2 linked regions of the Homo sapiens genome follow. The protein of the gene in region 1 interacts with the protein of each later gene in a biochemical or structural test. Each region holds a gene or a part of one and is shown in the gene's direction. Other genes may lie near its edges.

Region 1 (3,817 bases):
CATAGAAAACTAAGGAAAGGGGGGAAAGGCACTATTAATATAAGGCAAATCAGCATTACATAAAAAGGAAATGGGTTCCCATCCCACCACCTGGCTTAGCATCGAATGCTATTTAGTGATAATAAAGCAAACCTGTGGATCGGGACCGGGCCCTCGGCCTCTAGATTAGGAAGGCAATAGATAATGTCTAGAATTTGGCCGGGTGCCTGTAGTTCCAGCACTTTAGGAGGCTGACGCTAAAGGATTGCTTGAGGCCAGGAGTTCGAGGCTGCAGTGGGCCGTGATCATGCAACTGCATTCCAGCCTGGGCGACAGCGTGAGACCCCTACCCTAATAAAAATAAATACATACATAAAATAAAACATGATAAAGTTATTAGGTCAAAAATAGTAGTATACACGTTATGTAGAAATATGGTGGTAAATACCAGAAGAAAGAGCAAAGGGTTTGGAAGTGATTGCTTCTGGGGAGTTGGGAGGGCTGAGAAGGAGCTTGTTGTCTTTTATAACATCTCTTTTAACACCACCTGATTTTTAAACTGAATGTATATATAGTAATTTCATAAAAAGAAGAGTTAACCAACCCCCTCCATAAATTATATGCTATAGAAAATGTGAAAATCCAGAAAAACACAAAAAACATAAAAATTACCGTTAGAAACATTTGGTGTATAGTATTTCCCTCTATTCTGTCTGTAAATTGTGCCTACACTTACCTTTTTTCCTAATTTACATGGATAAATTTAAATTGTATGTATAGTTTTATATCTTTTTTAATGTAATCTTGTGTATTCCCATGTCATTACTGTGATTTTTATTATTATTAGCCCTATTTATATCCCATAATGTTGTACATAATGTTTTATTATGTACAAAACCTGTGAGTTTTACCTTCAGTGAAATTCCTAGAAGTGGAATTTTTAATTCAGATAGTATGAATGTTTCCATGACATTTTCTTTTCTTCCTTCACTTTATTGTATTTTACTTTTATTTTTGACATAATTCTAAATCATACTCAGGAAATACTGGTGTACCAATTTACAGTATTGTTACTGATCGTGGGTTCTTAGATTCTCATGCAGTGGAAATTGACATGAGACAGAGAAAGTGTCCCAGACAAGGCTTTATAATGGGCTTATGCTGGAGCAGGAGGGCAGCGGCACAGGGGCAGGAGTTCCCGGGCTGGCCCTCGGGACAGGTGTTCCTGGTGTTTTAGGGTGACATGGATAGTCATGAGGTGTGTCAGCAGCATTACACACGCTAGTGGCAGGCACCGGGGAACATCATGTTAGCACAGATGTGTCATGATCAGGGCATGGCAGATGAGCCCCTGAGGAGAGGGTTTTAGTAATACAACAAGGCAAGAGGTCAGGATCGTCGTTCTGATCCTGTATGCATGTGGGCATCAGGCTTAACTCCCTTGGGTAAGATTTGGGGTGGAACATGGCTTATCTTGTTTCCCTCCCTGGTTTGCATGGTCTGGTGGGCAGGTGTGATGGCGTGGGGGATGTATGGAAAATACGGGAGTGGGTACGGGCCAAGCTCTGTCCCTGCTGCCTCCGTATTACTTGCATGGCGTGAGAAGGATTGCCTGTCTTTGTCAGTATTAGCATGAATTGTTTTTGTATTTGCAAGGTTCATGGTTTGAAAAGGCATCTTTAATGTACTCTCCACCATTGCTTTTTGGGAAGGCTGTGCACCATGGTGTTAAGAGAGTGAACTACAGAGCCATGCGGTCCTGGCTTCCAGCCGTCATTCTGCCATTGTTGCCCTGGGTTCTCTGGAGACATGGTACTTAAAGAGCTAAGGCCCGATTTCTTTGCTTATAAAACGTAGGTGTTCTCAGCAGCTATCTCAGAGGGTAAGGGTCTTTCAGTGTGGACCTAGCACATAGTATATATCAAAAAAGTGATATTTTTTTCTGAAGTTGAAACTTTTAAATATAATTATTAGCTATTGTCTTTCTTTTTTGGGGGTAAATTTGTTAATGTCCTTTGCACGTGTTTCTACTGGGGTCTGTTTTTCCTATTTTTTTAGTAGCCCAGTTACTCCATTATTTTTCAGTTTTAAGAGTATTTTACTGATTCTGGCTGCTTTTTGGGTAGACCATCAAATTGTTTGCTAACTGTGCTCATTTTGTCTCCTTTCTGACAATCTCCTTTCTCATTATGTTTCATGAGTTGTATTTGCCTTTGCCAGAACTATCTGAACAAAGTTACACAAGGTTGGGACGACAGATATTTTTATCTTGTTCCTGTTTGGGGAGTTAAGGGACTAATGTTCTATCATCAGCTGTGCTGGTGGCTGCTGAAGTAGGTAATTCTTACCTTGTTAAGGAAGCATGGGAAGTACCACTTGCTGTTTGACGTAAGGGTGTTTATCAGGAGTAGGATATTCAGTTATTTAATGACTAACATAGTTTCTGCTAAGAAAATTAAATCTCTAGGACATCCTTGATTTATTGTTTCTTTGTTGCTCAGCAATTTTTATGTAAGGCATAGATAGAATTTTACCTTTCACGGCTGTCAGCAGTGTTTTCAACTAAGAAATGGAATATCATTACTGACCTCACTGTGGGCTTTGAAAATTGAGCTACATTTTTGCTCTTCCTTCTGCATTTGGTATTAACAATTATTGAATGTTAGAGATGGAAGGGAACCCAGATTATCTGGTATATGCTTTTCCTCATACAGAGAGGAAACTGGTATCAGGAGTCCAGTGATTTGCCCAGGGTACCAGAGCCAGGACTAGAGACCCTGTCTTCCTCCTGACTCGTGCCATCTCCTCCGAATATCCTGGTCTGGTTTCTCCAGTTCAGTGTTTCAGATTAAATCCCCTGACACAGTAAAACTCATGTGCACTGACTTCTCCTCCGAATATCCTGCTTTGGTTTCTCCAGTTCAGTATTTCAAATTAAATCCCCTGACACAGTGAAACTCATGTGCACCGACTTCTCCTCTGCCCCAGATGGTGTAACCTGGGCTGGCCAGACAGGCACCTCCCCAGTGGGCGTGTCTTCAGACAAAGGTGGCTTTGCTTTGTTGAAGTTACTGATATAAAGATCAGCGCCTGAAACAGATTCTCCGGGATATTACCGGAGACGGAGTGTTTTATTATTAGCCTTTCTTAGGTGGACATTTCCATTTGAATTAAAAGTCCTTTAGGCTGGGCGTGGTGCATGGCTGTAATCTCAGCACCTTGGGAGGCTGAGGCAGGAAGATCACTTGAGGCCAGGCGTTGGAGAGCAGCCTGGGCAAGGTGGCAAGAACCTTGTCTCTACAAAAAAAAAAGCGTAAGAGTCCTTCAGCATTTGAGGGGAAAACGTGTGCTGACGGTAGAATAGTCTAGGATGGGGTTGGGGGAGCATGTGGGACCTTCCCCTGGCCAGCTGACATGGTACTTAACCTCTGTCTTTTTTTTTTGGTTTATGGAGGAGCCATCTCACCTGGCAGCCTCTCCACGTGGGCTGAGCCCTCTTGGGGACAAAGACAGAAGTCCATGTCCCCAGGCCAGGGAAAACCCCACGTGTCAGGGTGTCTGCTGGCTTTGAGTCCTGAGACACGGACTTCACAGGCTGTGCTTCTTGCTTTGGGGCATCTCCTCTTTTCTTATTCTTAACCTAGAAGTTTCCCTGTTTTACCAATTGTTTCTCTTCAAGTTGATAAGCGGGCAGTTCTTGTGATCTAGAATCCAAAGAACCAAAAATAGGCCCAATTTTGCTTCAGTTCCGTGTAATGGCTACTTTTGTTTATACTGGTGTTCCCAGGGCTCTGCGGAATCCTGGATTTATTTATGTATCATCAAAGACTCCCTTATA
Region 2 (3,817 bases), on another chromosome or scaffold:
AGTGATTCTCCTGCCTTAGCCTCCTGAGTAGCTGGGATTACAGGCACACACTACCATGCCCAGCTAATTTTTTGTATTTTTTAGTAGAGACGGGGTTTCACCATGTTGGCCAGGCTGGTCACAAACTCCTGACCTCAGGTGATCCACCAGCCTCAGCCTCCCAGAGTGCTGGGATTACAGGTGTAATCCACTGCGCCCAGCCTCATTTGTTAAATTACGTACTCAACAGACATTTTACAAAGTTCCTGCTACGTGCCAGGCACTATATCAGGTGCTGGGGATTTTAAGAGAATCAAATACAGTCTCTGCCTTCAAGGAATTCAAAATCTCAAAAGAGAACAAAAATACAAAATATTAAAATGATTGCGGCCGGGTGTGGTGGCTCAAGCCTGTAATCCTAGCACTTTGGGAGCTGAGGTGGGCGCCCAGGCCAGGGGTTTGAGACCATCCTGGCCAACATAGTGAAACCCCCAACCTCTACTAAAAATACAAAAATTAGCTGGGGTGTGGTGGCACGCGCCTGTAATCCTAGCTACTAGGGAGGCTGATGGGGGAGAATTTCTTGAATCTGGGAGGCAGAGGTTGCAGTGAGCTGAGATCATGCCACTGCACTTCAGTCTCGGCAACAGAACAAGACTCATCTCAAAATACATAAATAAAAATAAATAATTCAATAAAGTGATTGCAAGAAAAGTTCTGTTCAAGGCACCAAGAGACCACAGGAAAATGAGTGTCTGGTTTGCCAGAAAAATGAGAGATGGCTTCCCAGGAGAGGCAGAGTTCTGCCTGGCCTGGTGGGATGCATGGATGAACAAACAAGTGGGCATTCCAGTCAGAAGAAACAATCCGTGGAAAGACCCAGAGGCATGAGAAGCTGAGCTAGCAGGGACAGGTAGACCAGGGCCAGTTGAAAAGGACCTTCATCACTTTTTCATCCTGCTGGCCAAGAGAAGCCACAGAATGGAAGCTCCATGAGGGCAGGGCTGTGACTGTCCTATTGGTTGATGTGTACTGAGCACCCGACAGTGCCTGTCATATGGTAGGCACTTAGCGAATATTTGGAGGCCACTGTTGAGTGAATGGGAGAACTGCTGGTTGCAGAGGAAGAGGGGCTGGGTGAATGCAGGTTCAGGATTGTGGACCTGCATGAGCTGGGAGGTGGGGGATAGACAACTTTGCAGGGAGAGAGGAAATAAGTCCCCAGGCTCCAAGGCTGACCGGGGTGGGGTCTCCGCAGGTAACTGTGCTGAGGGTCTGGGTACGAACTACCGAGGGCATGTGAACATCACCCGGTCAGGCATTGAGTGCCAGCTATGGAGGAGTCGCTACCCACATAAGCCTGAGTGAGTGAGGGGCCGGCCTTCCCACCATGGGCTGAGAACAGGGAGCAAGCGTACCTCAAGCCCAACAGCCTCCTGTTGGGCAATTTCCTGTTCCAGAATCAACTCCACTACCCATCCTGGGGCCGACCTACAGGAGAATTTCTGCCGCAACCCCGACAGCAGCACCACGGGACCCTGGTGCTACACTACAGACCCCACCGTGAGGAGGCAGGAATGCAGCATCCCTGTCTGTGGTAAGCTGGGGGCAGTGGGGCGGCCCATGGCCAAGGCCCGGGGGCTTCATGGGGCCTGGCAGCCTGGGATGGGAACCAAGAATACTGGCTACCCAGGCACAGTGGCTCATGCCCGTAATCCCAGCACTTTGGGAGGCTGAGGCAGGCAGATCACCTGAGGTCAGGGGTTTGAGACCAGCTGGGCCAACATGGCAAAACCCCGTCTCTACTAAAAATACAAAAATTGCCAGGCGTGGTGGTGGGCGCCTGTAATCCCAACTACTCTGGAGGCTGAGGCACGAGAATCGCTTGAACCCGGGAGGCGGAGTTTGCAGTGAGCTGAGATCCTGCCACTGTACTTCAGCCTGGGCGACAAGAGCAAAACTCTGTCTCAAAGAAAAAAAAAAGATGCTGGCCACCTTCAGAGCTGGCGTCAGTCATTCAGATCATATCTGTGCCTATTGCTCAGTAAAGTCAGGGAATCAGGGGATCTGAGTGGGGGGATCTGCCAGCCTCCTCCTCCCCCTCCCCACTCTTGACTTCCTTATGGTCCAGGCTGTGGCTCATTCCAAACATGCCTCCTTTCTGATCAAGGCACTCCTCCCTCCGGGAAGCCCTCCCTAGCCATTTCAGTCCACACACCCTGTTCTGAGTATCACAGAGCAAGCCTTGTGCAGTTTGGCCCTGCGGGATTCTGTCATTATTATTTCCTTGGTGTGTTAAGTAGCTATAGCCACCCCTTCCCTGAGGCAGACCACAATAAGCATTTCTTTTTCCCATGAGGGTTGGCAGGTGTGGCTGCACTCGCTAATGCGTCTGTAGGGTCAACTGACGGAGGTTGGCCCTGGCTGGGTGGCTCTGATTCAAATAATGGGTCCAGCTGAGTCTGGCTCCTCGTTGAGGGTTGGGCCTAGATCTGCTCCACGTGCGTTCATGCTGGGGCTGAGGCTGAAAGAAGGTACCTGGGAAAACTCTTCTTATGCTGATGACAGACACAGAAAACAATGAACAGAAAAGCGTCTTCTGTCCTGAAGGCCTGGCTCAGAACAGGCACAGTCAGCCCTGCCCACGTTCCATTGGCCAGAGCAAGTATATGTTCAAGGCCAGGGTCAAGAGGTAAACTACACCTCAGCCTGTAAAATCACAGAGCAAGGGATGTGGATGCAGGCAGGGGTAAAGAATTTGTGCCGATTACCAGTCCACAAACATGGGTTAGTGTTTGTTCTCTAGGCATCCCTGTCGGGCCCATTGCTCATTCCTGGGGTTGGTCTTTTTTTTTTTTCTTTCTAAGATGGAGTCTCACTCCCTTGCCCAGGCTGTTGGAGTGCAGTGGCCCTATCTCAGCTCACTGCAACCTCCGCCTCCTGGGTTCAAGCGATTCCCCTGCTTCAGCCTCCTGAGTAGCTAGGATTACAGGCGTGTGCCACCACTCCTGGCTAATTTTTTTTTATGTTAGTAGAGACGGGGTTTCACCATGTTGGCCAGGCTGATCTCAAACTCCTGACCTTGTGATCCTCCCGCCTCGGCCTCCCAAACTGCTGAGATTACAGGGGTGAGGCACTGCGCCCGGCCTTTTTTTTTTTTTTTTTTGAGATGGAGTCTCACTCTGTCACCCAGGCTGGAGTGCAGTGGCATAATCTTGGCTCACTGCAACCTCCACCTCCTGGGTTCAGGCGATTCTCTGCCTCAGCCTCTCATATAGCTGGGATTACAGGCACACGCCACCACGCCTGGCTAATTTTTGTATTTTTAGTAGAGACGGGGTTTCTTCATGTTGGCCTGGCTGATCTTGAACTCCTGACCTCCGGTGATCTGCCCAGCTCGGCCTCCCAAAGTTCTGGGATTACAGGTGTAAGCCACTGCGCCTGGCCCCTGGAATTGGTCTTATAGCAAGTTTATCCCAACAAAAACAGCTACTATTTACTCCCCAACCCCCATACACACGCACACACATTGATGATAAATAAGTTGCAGGCTTGCAGAAATTGACCCATCCAGGTGAACAGCCTAGTGATCCCAGCAAGCGTCCTGCTGTGCAGCTATAAAAACATGACTCCTCCAGCAGCTCCAGGCAGCCACTACCAGTTAATTACAGATGGCCTAGGAGGCCAAACCTGGTTACTATCTCTGGTTTATTATGTGCCAGACACTTATGCTGTATATTTTGTTTAATCCTCTCAACAAACCTGCAAAAGTGGCATTAGTAACCCCTTTAAAGGCAAACGGTCAGAAGCCCAGAGAGGTTAAGTAACCTGAGGTCAC

The links.
Region 2: the proteins of SERPINB6 (region 1) and F2 form a complex in vitro, tested with the Homo sapiens proteins (one study listed by BioGRID).

The regions. Positions count from the first base shown.
Region 1 is NC_000006.12:2,961,369-2,965,185, reverse strand, and holds part of SERPINB6 (serpin B6), read left to right. Parts: intron 1-3,055; exon of another isoform or gene 3,056-3,817.
Region 2 is NC_000011.10:46,721,943-46,725,759, forward strand, and holds part of F2 (prothrombin preproprotein), read left to right. Parts: intron 1-1,237; coding exon 1,238-1,343; intron 1,344-1,439; coding exon 1,440-1,576; intron 1,577-3,817. UniProt on the Homo sapiens protein: Thrombin, which cleaves bonds after Arg and Lys, converts fibrinogen to fibrin and activates factors V, VII, VIII, XIII, and, in complex with thrombomodulin, protein C. Functions in blood homeostasis, inflammation and wound healing.